Homo sapiens: one gene and its partners. The protein of the gene in region 1 purifies or fractionates together with the protein of each later gene. This does not show direct contact. Each region holds a gene or a part of one and is shown in the gene's direction. Other genes may lie near its edges.

The links. The genes of interacting proteins can lie anywhere in the genome.
Region 2: the proteins of CDKL1 (region 1) and SIRT1 purify together in Homo sapiens (affinity purification with mass spectrometry; 4 studies listed by BioGRID and IntAct, with this or other methods). This does not show direct contact.
Region 3: the proteins of CDKL1 (region 1) and TRIP6 purify together in Homo sapiens (affinity purification with mass spectrometry; 3 studies listed by BioGRID and IntAct, with this or other methods). This does not show direct contact.

The regions. Positions count from the first base shown.
Region 1 is NC_000014.9:50,393,423-50,401,469, reverse strand, and holds the start of CDKL1 (cyclin-dependent kinase-like 1), read left to right. Parts: upstream 1-4,588; 5' UTR 4,589-4,646; exon of another isoform or gene 4,647-5,140; 5' UTR 5,141-5,598; coding exon of another isoform or gene 5,599-5,601; coding exon 5,602-5,769; intron 5,770-8,047.
Region 2 is NC_000010.11:67,887,656-67,895,033, forward strand, and holds part of SIRT1 (NAD-dependent protein deacetylase sirtuin-1), read left to right. Parts: intron 1-1,226; coding exon 1,227-1,468; intron 1,469-3,746; coding exon 3,747-3,899; intron 3,900-7,378. UniProt on the Homo sapiens protein: NAD-dependent protein deacetylase that links transcriptional regulation directly to intracellular energetics and participates in the coordination of several separated cellular functions such as cell cycle, response to DNA damage, metabolism, apoptosis and autophagy.
Region 3 is NC_000007.14:100,862,455-100,870,764, forward strand, and holds the start of TRIP6 (thyroid receptor-interacting protein 6), read left to right. Parts: upstream 1-4,932; 5' UTR 4,933-5,043; coding exon 5,044-5,152; intron 5,153-5,406; coding exon 5,407-5,534; intron 5,535-5,581; exon of another isoform or gene 5,582-5,653; coding exon 5,654-5,779; intron 5,780-6,040; coding exon 6,041-6,412; intron 6,413-7,915; coding exon 7,916-8,009; intron 8,010-8,119; coding exon 8,120-8,289; intron 8,290-8,310. Other genes in the region: SLC12A9 (solute carrier family 12 member 9), read left to right, coding at 227-373, 3,265-4,151. UniProt on the Homo sapiens protein: Relays signals from the cell surface to the nucleus to weaken adherens junction and promote actin cytoskeleton reorganization and cell invasiveness. Involved in lysophosphatidic acid-induced cell adhesion and migration.

The DNA.
Region 1 (8,047 bases):
AAATGCGTCCCTAAATGATAGTTATTAGCTTTTGTCTGTATGGACTCTGGAATCAATTTCTTTCCCAATTCCACTTAAAACAGAGACAATAAATTCAAGTATTTCCTCAAGCTGCTGTAGAGTGTCATTTTAAAATGACATTGACTCAACTCCCCTTTCCTTACAACATAATTGGAAAAAAAAAAAAAAAAGCTGGCTGGGCACGGTGGCTCATGCCTGTAATCCCAGCACTTTGGGAGGCTGAGGCGGGCGGATCACGAGGTCAGGAGTTCGAGACCAGCCTGGCCAACACAGTGAAACCCCATCTCTACTAAAAATACAAAAAAGTAGCCAGGTGTGGTGGCGGGTGCCTGCAGTCCCAGCTACTCGGGAGGCTGAGGCAGGAGAATGGCTTGAACCTGGGATGCAGAGTTTGCAGTCAGCCGAGATCGCACCATTGCACTCCAGCCTGGGCAACAAAGCGAGACTCCATCTCAAAAAAAAAGAAAAAAGGCTTCAAGCATTGGCCCTGGGTTCTGCACTCAGATGAGGCTTCAGTGTTCTGCCCAATCTCATGGAAGTTCATTCTCCTGGTGCTGGAGCTGCACACACATGAAGTTGCTGAGCTACCATGAGAAGGGAGCATATAGACAAGATGAGTCTTCCCGGTAGCCTAAAAAAAAGGAGGAAGGTGCTACACTGTGCATCATTTTAAGTGCTCTGCGCCAGCTCTCAATGTCCTACACATTAACTCAATAATCCTGACAACCACCACAATGCATTAGGTAGTATTAGCAAAATGGTTAGGAGAAAAGATTCTGGAGTCAAACCACCTGCATTCCAATACTGACTTCACACTTCACTAGCTGGGTGTCCTTAGGCTAGCTACTTATCCTCTCCAACTCAATGAGAGTCATCTGAAAGCTCAGGATGATATTTAATGCCTATCTCCTGGGGTTATTGTGAGGCTCATGGGTCAAATATTCATAGCATAATGCCTGCCACAAAGTAAGCACTCATTAAATAATGTTGTTATATAGGCAATAGTAATTATCTTGCACAAGATCAAACACCAGTAAGTAGGTAGAAATCCTGGTCTTCTGACTCCAAATTCCAGGCTTTTTCTGTGACCATATGTTACCCTACTGAATGTTTATTTTTCCTTAAATGATTAAAATACCATAGTACGGTTTGTGCTGTTCTAAGAACACTGAAGTATTCTCGCTAATTATACAAACTGCAAAGAAAAGATCACTATTAGCAGAATATAATGCTGTTTCACTTTGCACTGGCTTGAGAAAAAGCCCCCACATAACAGACCATTTCTGAGATTCCCAAGAGCTATACTTTCCAGGAGTTATATACTTCTTTGATACCAAAACCAGTGTCGCACCTGCCAAGGGAAAGGACTGTCAGTTTGACTAGTCTAGAGGCCACGTTACCTTCTCTCTTTTGTGCTAAGTGGTGACAGCCGACTGTTCATCTCCCTTTTAAAGTTGTTCTCTAATATTTTATTTCAAATTCCTCCAAACAAAACAACTTGCAGCTGCAAGTCATGCTAGCTTTCTGGTTCACTGCCTACTTGGGCATAAATAACCAGTACACTGGCTCCTACTTTAACTACCACTAGGCCTGGCACAGTTCCAGGCTCTTTGGGTACTGACGTTGTGGAGTCCATAAAGTTAATTTTCCAGACAAACTTGATTTAACCTGGTATGAACTTCAGACGATGCAGCTCTGGGGAAATTCACACTGACTTTCTCACTTCATTTCAAAATATTTTTTTTAATTGTCAAAAAGAAACATTCATGAACATAGACCATATTCTTTCTGGGTCATAAAACAAAATAAAACATTTCAAAGAATTTAAGTCATATAAACTGAGTTCTCTGAAAATAATGGAATTAAACTAGAAATCAATAACAGATATCTTTAAAAATCACCAAATAGTTGGAAATTAACACACTACAAAAATAACCCATGAGTCAAAAAGGAAGTCACAAGGAAAATATTTTTGGGCCAGGCATGGTGGCTCACATCTATAATCCCAGCACTTTGGGAGCCAATGCGGGAGCATCATTTGAGGTCAGGAGTTCAAGACCAGCCTGGCCAACATGATGAAACCCTGTCTGTACTAAAAATACAAAAATTAGCTGGGCATGATGGTGCATGCCTGTAGTTCCAGCTACTTGGGAGGCTGAGGTGGGAGAATCGCTTGAACCTGGGAGGCGGAGGTTGCAGTGAGCCGAGATCACACTATTGCACTCTAGCCTGGGTGACAGAGTGAGACTCCATCTCAAAAAAAAAAAAAAAAAAAAAAATATTTTGAACTGAATGAAAATGATGATACAACATATTAAGATTTCTGTGATGTATTTAAAGTGGTGCTTACAGGAAAAATTATGGCATTAAATGCTTATATTAGAAGGCGGGGTGCAGTGGCTCATGCCTGTAATCCCAGCACTTTGGGAGGTTGAGGCAGGCAGATTATCTGAGCTCAGTAGTTGGAGACCAGCCTAGGCAATATGGTGAAACCCTGTCTCTACAAAAAACACAAAAATTAGCCAGGCGTGGTGGCACACCTACTTTGGAGGCTGAGGCAAGAGGATCGCCTGAGCCTGGGAGGCAGAGGTTGCAGTGAGCCAAGATCACACCACTGCACTCCAGCCTGGATGACAGAGCAAGACTGTCTCAAAAAAAAAAACAAAAAAAATTCTTCCAAACATTTAAGGAATTAATAATACCAATTTAATGTAAACATCTCTAGAAAATAAAAGGGAAGATAAACACTTCCCAACTCATTTTCTGAGATCAGCATTATCCTGATGCCAAAATTAGCAGATATTACAAGAAAACTATACATCAATATCTCTCAAAACATGAATGTAAAAATTTCCAATAAAATATTACTAATCAAATCCAGCAATACATTAAAATGATAAAATCATAAATAAGTTGGGTTTATCCCAGGAACAAAAGGTTGGTTCAACATCTAAAAATCAATATAATTCACCGTATCAACAGACTACATAAAAACAATTAGGTGGTGCACACCTATAATTCTAGCTACTCAGGCCTGGCAGAAGTGGGAGGATTGCTTAGGCCCAGGAGTTCAAGGGTACAGTGAGCAGTGATAACACTACTGCACTCCAGCCTGGGTGACAGAGCGAGACTCCCTCTCAATTAAAAAAAAAAAAGAAAAGAAAGGAAAAGGAAATGATCACCTCTAGATGAAGAAATGCATTTGATAAAATTCAACATCCATTCATAATTTTAAAAAGCAAACAAAAACACTAAGCAAACTAGGAATGAAAGTGAACTTTCTCAACCTCCTATTAATAAAAGGCTTCTGTGTTAGATACATATGGTTGCATAACAAATTACCCCAAAACATAATAGCAAACATATTTCAGTTTCTAGAGGTCAGGAACCCAAGTATGGCTTAGCTGGGTGCCCCTGGCTCAAGGTCTCTCACAAGATTGAACTTACATTGTCATCTGGGGCTACAATCTCATCTGAAAGCTCACTGGAGTTGGGGTGGTGGGGGAGATCCTCTATCCTCAAAAGGCTACATACGGTCTGATTCCATTTTCATGACATTCTGGAAAAGGCAAAACTATAGAGACAGAAAACAGATCAATGGTTGCCATTTGCAAACAATTTCTGTTCACAGACCACCTCTAGGCCATCCTTGTACTGGGTTTCCAGGGCAGCCACCAGCCCTCTCTCCTCAGCTCCAGGCTCCTTTCTGAACCCTTCCTGGGTTTACATTTAGTAGCATGCTGCTTGACACGGGATTGGCCCCTGTTTCATAGACACTGTGTTAATTTTCTCTCCTCGGGTACTGCTTCCAGGACAAGTACCCGCATTGATGCTGGCACTGGGAACGGGACGGATGATAAAGTGTGAGGCACTCTGCCCAGTGGCAACTGACATGATTTCATAATTTCCCCAGGTCCATCCGCTTCCCGCCAGTGTGCTCAGATTTGAGCAGTAGGAGTCCGTTGGGAGAAAGATGGGGGAAAGGAACCAAAAACAATTAAGGCAGACTCTGTAAGCTTCCACCTCCCACACCAGAAAAGTCCCACAGCAGAAGACTGCCGTGGAACCTTCCCTACTGTAGAGGAAAGTGCTGACTTTAAGCAATTTCTGCAGTCACGCCTTCCTCTTCTTTCCTTTCTCCCTCTCATTCATTCACTGACGCCGCAGCACTGATCAGCACAGACACAGAAGATGCCTCCAAGGGACCAAAGGGAATAACCGCGGTTCTGAGGTGTGGGGACTGCTGTTGCAGGGAAATGTGGACCGCTCAGGAGGGGCTCCTAGCGCAGGCGTCTTGCTCCGCAGACGCGGTTACAGCTGCGCTTTGCACGGCCTGCGGAAGTTTGCAAATCTAGCAGGTCTGCTCTCCCGGCAGCAGGACTCGGCCCGCGGTCAGGACAGCTCCCATGGACGGAGGGCGGCCCTCCGAGGCCTTTCCCTGCAGCCGGGAGGGCGGCCGGGCTGGGCCGGGCCGGGGGTGGGAAGCTGGGGCGCGGCGGCCCCGCCCAGGCAGACCCGGGGCGGGAGCCGGTTCCCATAGGGATCGCGGGCCGAGCCACGCCGAGCCGAGCTGGGCGGAAGAAGGCGAGGCGGGAGCCAGGCCCGTCCCTGACCGCCGCGGCGCCGTGAGTCCCGGGCGGGCAAGGAGGCGCGGGCCGTCCCTGGCCAACACGTGGCACCGCTCCATGCTGCGCGGCGCGGCTGAGGTGCACGTCCGGGCGCGGGAGGGTTTTCCCAGTCCCGGGGGCGTGGGGCGCGGGGCGCGGGTTGGTCTCCTGCGGCCAAGCCTCGCCGCCGCCTCCGCGGGGAGCCGGGAGGTGTCTTCTTGCCGCAGGGAAATGAGACCCGAAATTAGAACCGGGGAAGCCCTTAGCCCTCCCCGTACTCCAGCCAGCTCAGGTGTCTTAGATCGGATGAACGATAACGTTAAAAAGATAGCTTATCTTACAGCTCGGCTCGTTTTAGGATGGCAAGTTACATTTTAACTTACAGGGTATTTAACGGGCGATTAAAATCGGGTTACTGGAGGCAGCTAACTCTAGGCTGTTACTCCTGATCGCGTTGCCATTGCCGACACGGGTACACTCTTCATTCCTTAACATGTGCTGTTCTGTTCTAGGACCGTGACAAACACTCATCGTTGGGTGGGGCTCTAGTGCAGTCCGTTGGTGCCAATATTTTATAAGCGACGTTTTCAAACTATGTGAAGATCCTTTCTTTTCTTTTCTTTCTTTCTTTTTTTTTTTTTTTTTTTTTTTTTTTTGAGACGGAATCTCGCTCTGTCGCCCGGGCTGGAGTGCAGTGGCGCGATCTCGGCTCACTGCAACCTGCGCCTCCCAGGTTCACGCGATTCTCCTGCCTCAGTCTCCTGAGTTGCTGGGACTACGGGCGCCCATCACCACACCCGGCTAATTTTTTGTATCTTTAGTAGAGACGGAGTTTCAGTATGTTGGCCAGACTGGTCTCGAACTCCTGACCTCAGGTGATCTGCCCGCCTCAGCCTCCCAAAGTGCTGGGATTACAGGCGTGAGCCACCATTCTCGGCTGAAGATCCATTTTAAGAAGATTTATTCCTCTATGATGGAGAAGTATGAAAAAATTGGGAAAATTGGAGAAGGATCCTATGGAGTTGTTTTCAAATGTAGAAACAGGGACACGGGTCAGATTGTGGCCATCAAGAAGTTTCTGGAATCAGAAGATGACCCTGTCATAAAGAAAATTGCCCTTCGGGAAATCCGAATGCTCAAGGTAATTGATTCACTTTTCCTTTTTTTTCTTTTTCGAGACAGGGTTTCACTCTGTCTCCCAGGCTGGAGTGCAGCCATGTGATCATAGCTCACAGCAGCCTGGAACTCCTGGGCTCAAGCCATGCTTCTGCCTCAGCCTCCTGAGTAGCTGGGATTACAGGTTCTAGCCACTGCTCCGGGATCCACTTTTTCTTTAAAGTGAATTTTTAGGGATGAAAGAAATAAAGTGAGTCATGTTATGTTAAAAGAATGTCATGGGACATGGTTATATCTTACTTCATAGCCTTTTGACTTCAGTGACACAAATGGGATATCTGTGCACAAGTCACTAATTATATAATGAACTAGAAAGCAGAGACAAAAGTGCCAGGTAAGGTGGCATTCACTTTTAGAGATGCTGTGGGATATTTATTTTTCTTCCCCATAATTTCTCTCCCACCTGTAGACCTGGGTTTTCAAGGACCATTACAATTTGATAGTATAGGAATGTAAGACAATTCAATTTTGCTGGCATTGTTGATTTTTAAACTTCTAAGGTATTTCCTATTGGTATACTCAGTCTATTAAGAGAATTAACATTTACCTGTTTTCAAACTGCTAGGAAGCTCACAGATTCTCATTACACCTCATATGTATTTACTGCTGAGCATCATCATGTCCCGTTTCTAAAAAGAAGCGTTTTTCTTAAAGAAGTGAAATGATCACTTTCTAATTTTTTTTAACATTTTTTAGAGATGGGATCTTGCTATGTTGGCCAGGCTGGTCTCGAGTTCCTGGCCTTAAGTGATCCTTCCACCTTGGCCTCCTAAAGTGGTGGGATTACAGGCATGATCCATCGAGCCTGGCCTGATCACTTTTCAAATGTTTATTAGTTAACCCTAAAAATAACATGATATCAGAGGGGGGAAAGGTATTTATTACAAGCTGAAAGTGTGTTTTTCGCTAATGGAGAGACTACTTTACAGAACTTCTGTGAAGGTAAAATCCAAATCGCAATGTGAAAGGTGACATGTAATGAATATGGTGGAGGTCAACTTTGTTTCAGTTATGGCCTCTCTGTTCTGACCTGTATAACTACTATGTGACAAGGGAAGAGCTACTTGATGAGAGACAGATGAATGAAACTTCCAGGGGATTTACTATTATTCTTGCTTCTCCATTTTCTCCAGATCACTCTACAAATCTTGTGCCCATGGATAAGTGTGTGGGGTCACTTCTAGATAAGGAACCTAAATGGAAAGTAGCAAGCTTTGGATAAATTGGAATGGGTGGGTAACAGGGCAACTTCTCTATTTAGGTTTGGAATGTTCTTAACCAACAGGATATTATCTATTGAGAGGAGATGCTTCCAAAGCCCCGCAGGGGAGTGCTCCCATGGGCAGGGGTGAGACCTGCAGTGTTTTGACCATCCCCCTGCCCGGGTCACCCTACCCTTACCCTCTCTGTACACAGGGAGAGGCTGTTGGGCATTTTCACTTCCTCAGGCTTTCCCAGGGGAGGAGGTGATCATTACATTTCAAAGGGTTCATTTACCTGAAAGAAAATCTGTTTCTTGCAGAAAGATACTCTTTTTCTGATTCTGAAGATTACTTTTGTGAATGCTCCTTTCAAATCTCTCACTACACTTTATCAATACTACATTAACAGTGATAGCTCCCCAAATTCATTGAGTTCTTCTGGGATGGAGACCTTGCCTCTGTAGCTCTATATCCCCAAAGCACACTAGTTGGCACATCTAGGCCTCCAAAAAATGTCATTGTTGGATTGGAAAAAAAAGTTAACAAAATAAACTCTTAACAAAGGTGGATGTTGCCAATAAATGGGGAAGTCAAATGTGTTCTCTTATCTGAATATTGATATCCTCCAAAGGATGGGGTTGTGTACACATGAGCCTGATTTCAAAGCATGCAGCACCCCACTCTCCAAATTAAGTGCACAGATGTAGACACCACTGATCTCTATGAAATGGTGGGACTAGATTATAGGTAGAGTCTGTTCTTTAAAGCTGTAACTTTTCAGAGTTGTGTGATATTCCTAACACATAATACGTACTAGGCTGGGCATGGTGGTGCGTGCCTGTGGTCCTAGCTACTAAGGAAAGAGGCCAAGGCAAGAGGATGGCTTAAGCCCAGCAGTTCAAGGCTATGGTGAGCTATGATTAGGCCACTGTATTCTATCTAGCCTGGGTGACAGTGAGACCCTGTCACTTATAAAATAAAGATACTTAATAAATATTTGTTGAGTAGGTGAATTGAGGGTATGGTAAATGAACATTTTAT
Region 2 (7,378 bases), on another chromosome or scaffold:
ACCCTCCGCCTTCCAGGTTCAAGCGATTCTCCTGCCTCAGCCTCCCCAGCAGCTGGGATTACATGCATATGCCACTACGCCCGGCTAATTTTGAATTTTTAGTAGAGACGGGGTTTCTCCATGTTGGTCAGGCTGGTCTTGAACTCCCGACCTCAGGTGATCCGTCCGCCTGGGCCTCCCAAAGTGCTGGGATTACAGGCATGTGCCACCTTGCCCCACCTCACTTGTCCCCTTTTTGTGTAGTGTTCTTCATCCGGTTAGAATATCTTCCTCCCTCACTTCATATTCCTTGTTTTTTCACTTTATTGTACACTTACCACTTCTTGAAAAGCTCTGTATCTTACTTTTTAAATTGTGTTGTTTCCTGGTCTAGAATATAAGTTCTACGGGAGCAGGAATTTTTGACTGACTTGTATACTCCTGTCTTTTCAGTGCCTAAAAAAGTGCCTGGCACATAGTTTGTGCTCAATAAATATTTAATAAATATGTGAATGAAATGGGAAAGTATTTCGATGTAGAAAGCATTATCAGTTTTTTATACCAAAGGTATAACCATCTTGAAAGTGGATCTTTTTGTGTTCTCACTCTTACAAATGGCTTGATTATTTAAACATAGTGAAGATCAGTTTCTCTTTGGTGTCTGTAATTTATTTATTTATTTATTTTTGTTTTCTCAAGCCTAGGGAGCTGGTTTGAGCAATCTCAGGGTAAAAGAAAATGATTAGTTCTCAGAACATCAACATTGTATGTATTATCTTGGAAGATGGGTTAAGATCAAATTGAAAAATTACCGGAAAAAAATTAAGATGGCAGTTATGTATAGATTTTCATTTCTTTTTCCTGTGTGGTTTTAATGATAAGTAGTACAGGCTTTTAGGACTGGTACGATTTTTCTATGTCGTAGAACCCTTTTGTAAATACTTTTGGTATTATGGTGTGTGTTTCTAGATATTAACCATAAGAACTTAATTCTGGTTGTTAATTAATTAGACTCTTGAAATATATACTTACAGCTGAAGGGGGTCTTCCCAACTCTTCATTAGATCTTCCTAATCTCATTGGGATATAGCATTAATTCTGAGTGTACCGAGAATGAAATACCATTAAATTGCATTTTCTTACTTTGCAAAAAACCCTCACAGAATGCTAACTCATTACTTCAGAAAATAAATGAGATTTTGAATTACTTGATAAGTTGACTTTAAGCCTTTTCCCCCTTATTGTAGGTCCATATACTTTTGTTCAGCAACATCTTATGATTGGCACAGATCCTCGAACAATTCTTAAAGATTTATTGCCGGAAACAATACCTCCACCTGAGTTGGATGATATGACACTGTGGCAGATTGTTATTAATATCCTTTCAGAACCACCAAAAAGGAAAAAAAGAAAAGATATTAATACAATTGAAGATGCTGTGAAATTACTGCAAGAGTGCAAAAAAATTATAGTTCTAACTGGAGCTGGGGTATGTAAGACTAGTACATGGGGAGGTCGTATATGTATTTTCTTATGCCTTTTCCAAGTAGGAAACATTTTTCTGGTTTAGAAGGATTTATCCTTACATGATAATGGATGTTTGGGAACTGCCAAAAACTGAGTGCAGCAGCAGTTGCTAAATTAGTTCAGATTTTTAAAACCTCTCCAGCCTTAAAAAAATATTTGCTTCTGCTTATTTATAGCACAGTGGGTAAATGGAGTTAAGGCAAGATTTCTACCTACATTATATCATAGCTCCTAAAGGAGATGCAGGGAATTGAAACTCTGCTTTTGTTAAGGGATGTCAGTCTGATGGAGAAATTGGGTATTTGTTAGATCTTTATGAGAAACTGGAAACCTAATTGGTATTCACAAGTGAAAAGCTTAGTGTTGGGAAGAGTAACAGATTCCTACCTTCCCTCCATATTAATTAAGATGATGTGATTGTGGCGACTTGACATTTTCTATTTGATCTACCTTAGGGTTGCAGCTAATTAGTTACCTAAGACTATTGCATAGTGTGTGTTTTATACAGAGTATATTACATGTTAGCAACCAGAGCAACTGCTGTAGTAAAATTTTGTCCTGTTTTCTGCCATTTCGAGTTGCGAAAGGGTGTTACATAATCTTAGATGATCATCAGGAGTATGTTTTGCTCACAGATAACGATGTAGACAAGTTTGTTTAACTTAAATTGACCTTGACTCCAGGTCAAATTGGAGTCAACTCTGGTAAGATGATGAAACAATAACTTCTGAAATCTCTATTTGAAATGTCAGGATTTTTTTGTACGATTAGTGGGCACGTCTCAAAGAAATGAAGAATTGAAATATTATACACCTTTTTTTTTTTTCTTTTTTTTGGATACAGGGTCTTGCTGTGTTGCCCTGGCTGGAGTGCAGTGGTGTCATCATGGCTCACTGCAGTCTCAGCCTCTCCTGGCCTGAGTCTTGCTCTGTTGCCTAGGCTGGAGTGCAGTGGCAGGATCTTGGCTCACTGCAACCTCTGCCTCCTGGGTTCAAGCAATTCTCTTGCCTCAGCCTCCTGAGTAGCTGGGATTACAGGCGCACACCACCACACCTGGCTAATTTTTGTATTTTTAGTAGAGATGGGGTTTCACCATATTGGCCAGGCTGGTCTGAAACTCCTGACCTTGTGATCCGCCTGCCTTGGCCTCCCAAAGTGCCAGGATTACAGGCGTGATCCACCGTGCCTGGCTATACATTGTTTTTTTTAATGAAAATAGAGAATTGTTGTAGTATTGAGGTAATAGAATCCTAACTAAAGGAGCAATTTCTTTGGAATTACTTCTCTGTAATAGAAATTCTTGGCTGGTGGAGTGGCTCATGCATGTAATTCCAGCACTTTGGGAGGCTAAAGTGGGAGGATCACTTGAGCCCTGGAGTTTGAGATCACCCTGAGCAACATAGACCCTGACTCTACAAAAAATTAGCCTGGTGTGCTGGTGCGTACTTGTAGTCCCAGCTGCTAAGGAGGTTGAGGTGGGAGGATTGCTTGAGCCGGAAAGGTTAAGGCCATAATGAGCCATGATGGCACCACTGCACTCCAGCCTGGGCGTCAGAGCGAAACTGTCTAAAAAGAAAAAAAACAAAAAGCCGGGCGCGGTGGCTCACACCTGTAATCCCAGCACTTTGGGAGGCTGAGGCCTGCGGATCACGAGGTTAGGAGATCGAGACCATCTTGGCTAACATGGTGACACCCCGTCTCTACTAAAAATACAAAAAATCAGCCGGTCGCGGTGGCAGGCACCTGCATTCCCAGCTAATCAGTAGGCTAAGGCAGGAGAATGGTGTGAACCCAGGAGGCGGAGCTTACAGTGAGCCGAGATCGCACCACTGCACTCCAGACTGGGCGACAGTGTGAGACTCTGTCTCAAAAAAAAAAAAAACAAAAAAAAAAAGAAAAAATTCTTCCCTACTTAAAATAATTTGTTGAAATGGTTTATTTTCTTCTCAAGTTGCATTTGCTTTAATTTGTTGGCTAAATGCTTAAAAGGCTTAAAATTGGCCTGACTTAAAAATTCCTTATCTGTGTTAAAGATGGAATATGAGGTATGTTTAATTTTACTCAGTTATTTGGGAGTTTTATTTCTGAAATAAGGGTAGGGTTGTATTTTTATTTCTTAAAAGAAGTTTCAGACTAAAATTTTCTTTCTCAACTCTTACCTAATTATATGGTAAGAGAGCTAGCTAGTTCCTATAAAGGTAGAAGATTTAATTTTACAAATTATGCCATGCACATTTTAGGTGTCTGTTTCATGTGGAATACCTGACTTCAGGTCAAGGGATGGTATTTATGCTCGCCTTGCTGTAGACTTCCCAGATCTTCCAGATCCTCAAGCGATGTTTGATATTGAATATTTCAGAAAAGATCCAAGACCATTCTTCAAGTTTGCAAAGGTACTATGAACTCTTCTGGTTGTTTCTTTGGCCTTCTCTCATGAAAAAGTATTTTGTTCACATACAGCCACCTTAAGGTTATCGTTCATTGTTTAGTAAAGTGAATGCTGCTACTGTGGCGGAGTAAGATCACTCATTATGGCTAGAATTCCTTTATTCCTAGAGGAGGACTATTATCTACTTCATTTTAGGAGTGAGCTTATTTTCAAAGAGATAGTTCATATTTTTAAAATTTGCACTGCAGCGATGGTCGTTATTCTGCCTGGGCTTTTTTAAGAGGTTTGCACACCATATAAAAGTAACATAACTTGTGATTTTTAATATTTTATTAGAGATTGTAAAGGTTATAACATCACTTTGGTGTTTCGTAGTCAAGTTTTAACATAAGGATGTGCCTGAAAAATCATTTGTAATTAGAGAATGGGAAGATTCTTGGGTTGCATTTTTGTCAGCAAATTGCAGAGGATCATTATTCTGCTCTAGAGTTGCACCGTCCAGTTCAGAAGCCACTAGCCACATGTGGCTGTTGAGTACTTGAAATGTATTGATATGTGCAATAAGTGTAGAAGACATATTGGATTTTAGAGATCCAGTATGGAAAATACAAAGTATTTCATTAGTTTTATTCATCAAATATTAAACAAATATTGGTTTTTATATGGAAAAAATACTTAAAATTAATTTTGAATTCTTTTGAAATACTTTTGATATTGGGTTAAATAAAATGTATTTTGGGCTGTGCGTGTTGCCTCATGCCTGTAATTTCAGCACTTTGGGAGGCCAAGGTGGGAGGATCAGTTGAGCCCAGGAGTTTGAGACCAGCCTGAGCAACATAATGAGACTCCATCTCTACAAAATAAATAATAAAATTTGCTGAGCATGGTGGTGTGCACCTGTAGACCCATCCACTCAGTAGTCTGAGGTGGGAAGATCCCTTGAGCTCAGGAGCTCAAGACTGAGTGAACCATGATCTGCCATTGCACTCCACCCTGGGCAACAGAGCAAGAGTGTTTCCAAAATATATGTATGTTTTTTGAAGTTTACTTTTTTTTTTTTTCTTTTTTTGAGAAGTAGTCTTCCTTTGTCCCCCAGGCTGGAGTGCAATGGCATGATCTTGGCTCATAGCAACCTCTGCCTCCCAGGTTCAAGTGATTCTCCTGCCTCAGCATCCTGAGTAGCTGGGATTACAGGCGCCCGCTACCATGCCCAGCTAATTTCTGTATTTTTAGTAGAGACAGGGTTTCACCAGGTTGGCCAGGCTGGTGTTGAACTCCTGACTTCAGGTGATCCACCCTCCTCGGCCTCCCAAGGCTCTGGGATTATAGGCGTGAGCCACCGCGCCTGGCCAGTTTTCACCTTAATGTGGTTACTAAACAATTTAAAGTTATATGTATGTCTCACATTATGTACCTATTGTACAGCTCTGCTTTAGCATAGAAAGTTTAATAATGCATTACACCATTCTCAAGAGATTGAGTCATTAGAAAACTGTTTTCTTTCCTGTATTTCAGTCTTTTGGAAAGAAATTACAAAATTTGTTATTGTTAAACTTGGAGGTATATATATTTGAAAGAGTCATTTTATTTTATTTTACTTTAAGTGCCGGGATACATGTGCAGAATGCGCAGATTTGTTAACATAGGTATACATGTGCCATGGTGGTTTGCTGCATCTATCAACCTGTCATCTAGGTTGTAAGCCCCACATTCATTAGGTATTTGTCCTAATGCTTTTCCACCCCTTGCCCCCCACCTCCTGACAGGCCTCTGTGTGTGGTGTTCCCCACCCTGTGTCCATGTGTTCTTATTGTTCAACTCTCACTTATGAGTGAGGACATGTGGTGTTTGGTTTTCTGTTCTTGTGTTAGTTTGCTGAGGATGATGGCTTCCAGCGAAGGAGTCTTGTATTAGTGGCTTTTTCCCCACCTAATCGTTAGAAGTTGTGAATAGGGACTTCTTTAATGAATCCAGAAGTTAATGAACCTAGCTTTTTTTTTTTTTTTTTTGGAGACGGAGTCTGGCTCTGTTTCCCAGGCTGGAGTGTAGTGGTGTGATCTCTGCTCACCATACAACCTCCACTTCCCGAGTTCAAGAGATTCTCCTGCCTCAGCCTTCCGAGTTGTTGGGACTACAGGCGCGTGCTGCCATGCCTGGCTAATTTTTGTATTTTTGGTAGAGACGGGGATTCACTATGTTGGCCAGGTTGGTCTTGAACTCCTGACCTTGTGGTCCGCCCATCTCAGCCTCCCAAAGTGCTGGGATTACAGGTGCGAGGCACCGCGCCCCGCGCCCTGCCGATGAACCTAAATTTTAACTAAACAGTGGCCTTATCTACTTTCAGACCATGTGGTATATTTACATGACTACAGGAGAAGCTTTGCTAATTCAGAATAAATTATGTTACTTAAATTGGCGACTGTCTTTAAAAAAAAAGTGATTTTTTGGATGCAGTAGCTCGTGCCTATAATCCCAGTGCTTTGGGAAGCTGAGATAGGAAGATCTCTTGAACTCCGGAGTTTGAGACCAGCCTGCGCAACACAGTGAGACCCTAATCACTACACCCCTCCACCCCATGTAACTTTTGTTTTATCCAGGTTGTGGTATATTAAATGGGCATTAGTGTAAAGTGGGAAAATTATATTAATTCTTGAATATGATTACTAAACTGAATTTGAAAAGTTTTCAGGCTATCAAGAGAATTTTTAACTTAAAACTTATATAATTTGAACTTTTTACTTCATATATCCGTAATGATGATGGTCATCTATATCTAGCTTTTAGAGCAGACAACTGGTTCATACCTGGATTAAATAAATAATGTAAAGTTATTTTTTGTTAATTATGGATTAGTGAAGATTTACTGTTTTAACCTACTCCTGCTAGTGGCACTACTGCATGGTTTTGAAGACCAGTGAAGTATGACTTAAAGGTTTCTTGAATTGGAGCTAGGACACTGGCATTTATAAAATCTCCACGTAGCGCAGACATTGACACTATCAGAAGACCAGCAAGTAACTAGAAGTTACTTTGATCTTAAATCAACTACAAAAAACTTGACTCACTAGTTATGGAGAATACATTTTTTATTGTTAAACTGAAAAAAAATTCAGTCACTTATAAGGTGTAGCCTCTTCTAATCCTGTTTATATAAATTTATTTATTATTATTATTTTTTGAGATGGAGTCTTGCTCTGTTGCCAGGCTGTAGTGCATTGGCGCGATCTCGGCTCACTGCATCCTCCACCTCCCGGGTTCAAGCAATTCTCTTGCCTCAGCCTCCCAAGTAGCTGGGACTACAGGCACGTGCCATCACGATCAGCACTTTTAGTAGAGACGGGGTTTCACCATGTTGGCAAGGACGTGTCTCGTCGTGACCTCGTGATCCGCCCGTTTCAGCCTCCCAAAGTGTTGGGATTACAGGTGTGAGCCACAATGTCCAGCTGATAAATTTAATTTTGCTTTTCTGAGTTTTCATTTATG
Region 3 (8,310 bases), on another chromosome or scaffold:
CCAGGCTGTCTGGAACTCCTGGCTCAAGCAGCCCTCCCACCTTGGCTTCCCAAAGGGCAGGGATTACAGGCATGAGCCCCGACACCAGCCCCTCTGCCCCTTTTATCCTTTCCCATGACCCCTCCAAGTAGCCATAGCCCTGCCCAGGCCCGTCTGTGATTTGGACTCTAGGAGACATTGAGTTTGGACAACACTGGCTACCTTCCTTTCCTTATCTTCTCTGTAGACTCCCTGCCCTCGGACCCTGTACAGCCGCAGTATGGGGCATGGCTCAGCCTGGTGGACCGTGCCCAGGTGAAGGCTTTTGTGGATCTAACCCTCTCACCCTCCGTGCGCCAGGGGGCTCAGCATCTGCTGCGAATCTCCGGCCTCGGTGAGCTGCTTCTCCCTGGATGCCCTCGGCCTTCCTCTGTGGCCACTTCAAATCTCCGCTCCCCTCCCCTAGAGAGTCAGCCACAGATTGCAAACTGCAAAAGGACCTTATAGTCGAGAGGAGATAAGACAGTGCTCAAAGATAATAGCCTCAGACAGTGTGTGATAAGGTCTAATAGGAGATGCTAGGGACTAGTGATGGGGTGGGCGATGTTGTGGGTTTTTTTTCCTTCTTCTTTTTTTTTTTTTTTTTTGAGACGGAGTCTCACTCTGTCTTGCCCAGGCTGGAGTACAGTGGCACGATCTTGGCTCACTGCCTCCTCCACCTCCCAGGTTCAAGTGATTCTCCTGTCTTAGCCTCCCAAATATCTGGGACTATAGGCATGTGCTACCATACCTGGCTAATTTTTGTATTTTTAGTAGAGATGGGGGTTTCACCATGTTGCCCAGGCCAGTGTCGAGCTCCTGACCTCAGGTGATCTACCCGCCTCGGCCTCCCAAAGTGCTGGGATTACAGGCATGTACCACTGTGCCCAGCCTTTCCTTCTTTTTTTTTCTGATCCAAAAATTGGGGCATAGGCACTGAAGAGTGTATTTTTGGAGACAATGGAGCATTATTTGAATCTCCAGCTGCCTCATCAAATCAGATGGTTTTTAACCACCAGTGTTCAGAGGAAGGCAGGCCAGCCACTATACACTGATGTGGCCAGCAAAGGTTTTGCGGAGAGATGGTAATTCATCCAGACTTTGAAAGAGGTTGGGATGTAGGAGATGTAACATGTCTCCCCTGCCCCCGCCACCCAAAGCCACAAAGGATGCCGGAGGCTGTGTGGGGCGGACGTCTGTGGATGGAGCGGTAAATTCTCAGCTTTTAGCGCTGAGGCCACCAGGGTTATCTATGCTCAGTCACTGCCTTTTCCCTTAATCCTGGACCAGTGCCCGTCACCAAAGTGCATGCTTCCTTCTCTATTCAGAGTCTGGCTAAAGTTCAACAGTGTTGGACATTGCCCAGTTCAGTGTAAATCAGAACCCTGGGAAATACTGAGGAGGGGGCATGACTAGTTTATTTTGCAAGATCAGCTGGAATTCACACCTGCGGAGATGTTTTGGGGTGTCGTCAAGCATCATTGACCCACAGAACATCTGAGAGCCTGGTCTTCACTTTTTGTGCAGAGACCACAATGCTTATGAAATACGAAATTTTTCCTGTGGAAGATATCAGGTCGGTGCAAAAGCAATTGCGGTTTTTGCCTTTTTTTTTTTTTTTTTTTGGACAGGGTCTCACTCTGTTGCCCAGGCTGGAGTGCAGTGGCACAATGTCAGCTCACTGCAACCTCTGCCTCCCGGGTTCAAGTATTCTCCCATCTCAGCCTCCCAAGTAGCTGGGACTACAGATATACGCCAGCATTGTCCGGCTAATTTTTGTATATTTTTGGTAGAGACGGGGTTTCACCATATTGCCCAGGCTGATCTCGAACTTCCAACCTCAGGTGATCCGCCTGCCTCAGCCTCCCAAAGTGCTGGGATGCCATTTTAATGGGGGAAAAAAAGAACCACAATTACTTTTGCACCAACCTATTCCAATAAAAGGAAAAGTAGTTCCTTTAAATGGTGGATTCTCCTGTCATAGAAAATTTGATTTATGGCTTGAGCAGTGTTTGTTTCATGAGAAGGGGTCTTGGAAGAGGTCTCTGCGTCTCCCTGTAAACTCAGCAATTATCCGATTCCACAAGGGTTGTTCAAAAATTAAGAACGAAGAGCTTGTCAGCAGGGACTTGGAGCATTGTGGTTGCCACGTGCCCAGCTCGGTGGCTCAGAGTGTGGCCTCTCACGCTGGATGGAGGCGGATTGCGTTGACCTACCTGCCCCAGTACCTACCAGATATGAGCCTATGGGCAAGTGACTTCATCCCTTGGTGCTTTGGGCTCCTTATCAGTAAAAAGAGGAGACTAAATATTACCTACCTCATAGCATTACTTCGAGTTTCAAATAAGTTAAAATATAAAGTGCTTTCTACAGGACATAGCCCCTGGTAAGCGGATACCATGCAATGAACCACCATGATTAGGGTTTTGGTAAAACCTACTAGGGTTAGGGTTTACTGCAGTAAACATACGGGGTAGCCCTGTTTCTTTTTTTCTTTTTTTTTGAGATGGAGTCTCGCTCTGTTGCCCAGGCTGGAGTGCAGTGGCGTGATCTCGGCTTACTACAACCACCACCTTCCGGGTTCAGGCAATTCTCATGTCTCAGCCTCCTGAGTAGCTGGGATTATAGATGCCCACCACAATGCCCGGCTAATTTTTGTATTTTTAGTAGAGATAGCATTTCACCGTATTGGCCAGGCTGGTCTCAAACTCCTGATCTCAGGTGATCAACGTGCCTCAGCTTCCCAAGATGCTGCGATTACAGGTGTGAGCCACGGTGCCCTGCCTGGTCCATTTTTTCATCTTCCCATTGCAGAGTCTGGGACGCTATTACCCTGGGGATTCAGGTCATGAGCTTGGCTGATCAGGGTGTCTGGTTTGCACAACAGAGTCAAACTCGCATCCCCTGCCGTGAAACAGATGCCCCGCTAGAAGCCGGGAGTGGACAGCATCCTCCTCTCCATAGAATTGGAGTGCTCATTAGTGGCAAGAATCCTAAGGCGAACTTTGCCTGTTTAAGTGGAGGAGATTAGTCACTGAGATAATAAAATAAATGCATGTGAAAGTGTTTAGGAAAAATGAAAAGTCTTTATGCAAATATGCAGAATGTTGCCGTAAGAGCCCGTACACAGTGGGAATGTCATACCTATGGCTGACGCACCTTGCTGTCAGTGTGTGGGAGCGTGGTGTAAACTTAGCCTGTGAGCCTGACTCCTGTCTGTTCCTGCCTTCCCCGCTCTGCCCCCAGGTGGCATGAAGCCCAACACGTTGGTCCTAGGTTTCTACGATGACGCTCCACCGCAGGACCATTTCCTGACGGACCCGGCTTTCTCTGAGCCTGCAGACAGCACCAGGGAGGGCAGTTCCCCAGCTCTGAGCACCCTGTTCCCTCCTCCCCGGGCTCCTGGGAGCCCCCGGGCCCTCAATCCCCAGGACTATGTGGCCACGGTGGCCGACGCCCTCAAGATGAACAAGAATGTGGTGCTGGCCCGGGCCAGCGGGGCCTTGCCCCCTGAGCGGCTGAGCCGGGGGTCTGGGGGCACCTCTCAGCTGCACCATGTGGACGTGTGGCCCCTCAACCTGCTGCGGCCCCGGGGTGGGCCCGGCTATGTGGATGTCTGCGGCCTCTTCCTGCTGCAGATGGCAACCATCTTGGGCATGGTGCCCGCTTGGCATAGCGCCCGGCTCCGGATCTTCCTGTGCCTGGGGCCTCGGGAGGCGCCTGGGGCGGCCGAGGGGCGGCTGCGGGCACTGCTGAGCCAACTGAGGATCCGGGCTGAGGTGCAGGAGGTGGTGTGGGGCGAGGGGGCCGGGGCTGGGGAACCCGAGGCGGAGGAGGAAGGGGACTTTGTGAACAGTGGGCGGGGAGACGCAGAGGCAGAGGCCCTGGCACGCAGCGCCAACGCCCTGGTTCGGGCCCAGCAGGGGCGCGGCACAGGAGGAGGGCCGGGTGGGCCGGAGGGTGGGGATGCTGAGGGCCCCATCACAGCCCTCACCTTCCTGTACTTGCCTCGGCCGCCAGCCGATCCCGCCCGATACCCCCGCTACCTGGCGCTACTGGAGACTCTAACCCGAGACCTGGGCCCCACGCTGCTGGTTCATGGGGTCACTCCAGTCACCTGCACTGATCTGTGATGCCCCTGCCTCCAGGGCTAGGTAGAGAGGGCCCAGGCAGGCGGCCTATCCTGATCCTTGGAGGAGGAGGAAGAGGAGGCCACTGTGGCCCGTGGCCCTGCCCTTGGGACGTGGAGCCCAGGGGAGGTTTGAAGGGGATCCTGGGCTTGGGCATCACGCCCACCTCCTTTGGCAGAGGGACCCCAGCACACTAACTCTGGGTGGCTGTCCCCACCGTGCAGGGGAGGGAGTCCGCAGCCTCCCTTCACTGGTGCCTTGATGCTAGGGGCCAGGCCTCCTCTGTGACTCTGGGCTACCTCAGTTTCCCCATTTTGGCCAGACTCACCGGCCCACTGGGGTGGTGATGTTTTCGTTCTGTTTTATTTTTCTAACTCTGCTGACCATGAATAAAAGACCAAAACACTACAGGCTGGCTGAGCAGTGCTGGTGGGTAGCTGAGAGGGAGGGGGTGGGAATGGAGAGCTCTGCAGAGGGGTGGAGATCGGAGCCTTCAGCCTCCCGCCGCGAGGCTGCCACGTGCAGGGCTGGGGTGCGGGGCCCGGACGCATCCGTGGACTTGGAGGCTGGCTCGGGCCCGCACCTCCCATCCCCAGCTGCCCGCAACCCCCAGTGACTCGGGATCCCCCGGAGAGCCCTCCCCTCTCGGCAGGAGGGGGCTGACTCAGGGAGAAATGGCAGTTTAGGGCCTAGGGGGCCACGTGACCCTCCCCCAGGAATGTGGTGACGTCATCGGAGGCGTGGTCGTCCCCAAAATTAGGGAGGAAGAGGAAAAAAAAAAGCCAGAAAAAGTTTTCTTTTCTGGAGTCCCAAACGAGGTGCGGGACGGAAGAGGGGGTGAAGGCCAGAGGCTCGGGGCTTCAAGACCGCTGTCTGGAGTCCCCCTTTCCAGGCCATGTCGGGGCCCACCTGGCTGCCCCCGAAGCAGCCGGAGCCCGCCAGAGCCCCTCAGGGGAGGGCGATCCCCCGCGGCACCCCGGGGCCACCACCGGCCCACGGAGCAGGTAAGGCAGCCCTTGTGAGACAGAAGAGCCACCCAGCTGTGGCGCTCACCTCTGTCCTACCGCTCCAGCCTCCCGCCCTGGCTGCTTCCTCCTGCCCCTTCCCCAAGCCGAGGCGGGGGGAACAGCCGCCTGCGCTCTCTTGGGACCCTAGATTTGGGGGAGGAGGTAACGAGAGGCGGAGAGGGTGGCTCCTCAAATATACACCCCTCCTGTCCTCCGCCACCCCACCTTTGATTTCTCTTCCCTCAACCCAGCACTCCAGCCCCACCCCAGGGTCAATTTTTGCCCCCTTCCATCTGAGCAGTGTTACCAGGCCCCAGGGGGACCGGAGGATCGGGGGCCGGCGTGGGTGGGGTCCCATGGAGTACTCCAGCACACGCAGGTGAGACCCGGGATCGTGGGGTGGGACATGTGGGATCCCCCAGAACCGAGTCTGAGGGACCCAGGACAGGAGAAGGCCTATGGTGATTTGCATTCTTCCTGCCCTGGCTCCATCCTCAGGGGCTCCCTGCAGACAGGGGGGGCCTTCGCCCTGGAAGCCTGGACGCCGAGATAGACTTGCTGAGCAGCACGCTGGCCGAGCTGAATGGGGGTCGGGGTCATGCGTCACGGCGACCAGACCGACAGGTGACTCTGCCCCTCCTCCCCGTCAGCACCCTGCCCCCTTCTCTGGACTCTCAGACCCAGCCTGATCGATCCCCCATGTGTGTAATGTGCACCCCAGCATGGAGGAAGCGTGGCTGCAAGTACCAACATGTCAGCCACTTGAGGACGGGACCTTGTCAAATGCAAAAAGCCTGTGCTTCCCCACAGCCAGGGTCATTTCCACAAATGTGGGTCTTGGAGTGGGGTCCTTGCTTACGACTTCTGGCCTGCGTTTCTCCTCAGGCATATGAGCCCCCGCCACCTCCTGCCTACCGCACGGGCTCCCTGAAGCCAAATCCAGCCTCGCCGCTCCCAGCGTCTCCCTATGGGGGCCCCACTCCAGCCTCTTACACTACCGCCAGCACCCCGGCTGGCCCAGCCTTCCCCGTGCAAGTGAAGGTGGCACAGCCAGTGAGGGGCTGCGGCCCACCCAGGCGGGGAGCCTCTCAGGCCTCTGGGCCCCTCCCGGGCCCCCACTTTCCTCTCCCAGGCCGAGGTGAAGTCTGGGGGCCTGGCTATAGGAGCCAGAGAGAGCCAGGGCCAGGGGCCAAAGAGGAAGCTGCTGGGGTCTCTGGCCCTGCAGGAAGAGGAAGAGGAGGCGAGCACGGGCCCCAGGTGAGCCCTGGGGAACTGGGATTTCAGGCCCTACAGACAATGGGACACCGACTGGGTGGGGTGGCTGGTGGTGTTTTAGGGGGCTTTTTTGTTTTTTGAGACAGAGTTTTGCTCTTGTTTGCCCAGGCTGGGGTGCAGTGGTGCCATCTTGGCTCACTGCAACCTCTGCCTCCCGGGTTCAAGTGATTCTCCTGCCTCAGCCTCCTGAATAACTGGATTACAGGCACACGCTGCCACGCTTGGTTAATTTTTGTATTTTTAGTACAGACGGGGTTTCACTAAAACCCCAGTTTGTTGGCCAGGCTGGTCTCGAACTCCCGACCTCAGGTGATCCGCCTGCCTCAGCCTCCCAAAGTGCTGGGATTGCAGGCCTGAGCCACCGCGCCTGGCCAAGGGGCTGGTTTTGGAGCAGAGTCAGAGGTCTGGGACGTGGAATAGGTAAGGGCAGGGCAGTGCGGGGGAGCAGGATAGAACTGCCCATTGGGGCTGAGCGCGGTGGCTCATGCCTGTAATCCCAGCACTTTGGGAGGCTGAGGTGGGTGGATCACCTGAGGTCACGAGTTCGAGACCACACTGACCAACATGGAGAAACCTCGTCTCTACTAAAAATACAAAATTAGCCAGGCATGGTGGCACATGCCTGTAATCCCAGCTACTCGGGAGGTTGAGGCAGGAGAATCACTTGAACCTGGGAGGTGGAGGTTGCGGTGAGCCGAGATCGCACCACTGCTCTCCAACCTGGGCAACAAGAGCAAAACTCTGTCTCAAAAAAAAAAAAAAAAAAAAAAAAGAACTGCCTACGGGCCCCTGGGCTGAGATGTTCTCAGATGAGCTTTCTAGCTGGAACTGCCTGGCCACCTTCAGAGACATTATAGCAGTCCCCAATCTTTTTGGCACCAGGGACCAGTTTTGGGGAAAACAATTTTTCCATGGACTGGGGAGGGGGATGGGAGGGGGTGGGAGGGGGATGGTTTCAGGATGATTCAAGCACATTACATTCATTGTGCACTTTATTTCTGTTATAATAATAATAGAATATATAGTATATATAATTGTTTCGGTATATATTACAATGTATATTACAATGTAATATATACCGAAACAATTATACAATTCACCATCATGTAGGATCAGTGGGAGCCCTGAGCTTGTTTTCCTGCAACTGGACAGTCCCATCTGGGGGTGATGGGAGACAGTGACAGATCATCAGGCATTAGATTCTCATAAGGAGCTTGCAACCTACATCCTTCGAACACACAGTTCACAATAGGGTTCATGCTCCTATGAGAATCTAACGCCGCTGCTGATCTGACAGGAGGTGGAGCTCAGGCGGTAATGCAAGTGATGGGGAGCAGCTGTAAATACAGATGAAGCTTTGCTTGCCCATTGCTCAGCTCCTGCTGTGTGGCCCAGTTCCTAACAGGCCATGGCCTGGCGGCTGAGGGCCCTGGTATTACAGCATCAGGAGCTAGAGTAGGACCGAGCCCGATTCCCACCTTCCAGGTGCCCCTGAGCCAGCCTCCAGAGGATGAGCTGGATAGGCTGACGAAGAAGCTGGTTCACGACATGAACCACCCGCCCAGCGGGGAGTACTTTGGTGAGCTGAGGCTGTGGGGTGGGTGGGACGTGGGAAGGGAGGCTGGGAGACAGAGGGGACAGTGGCTTCCTGGGTCTGTGAAGACTGATGCTGTTTCTCCCTGTCCTCAGGCCAGTGTGGTGGCTGCGGAGAAGATGTGGTTGGGGATGGGGCTGGGGTTGTGGCCCTTGATCGCGTCTTTCACGTGGGCTGCTTTGTATGTTCTACATGCCGGGCCCAGCTTCGCGGCCAGCATTTCTACGCCGTGGAGAGGAGGGCATATTGCGAGGGCTGCTACGTGGTGAGTGGCTGGGGCTGGGAG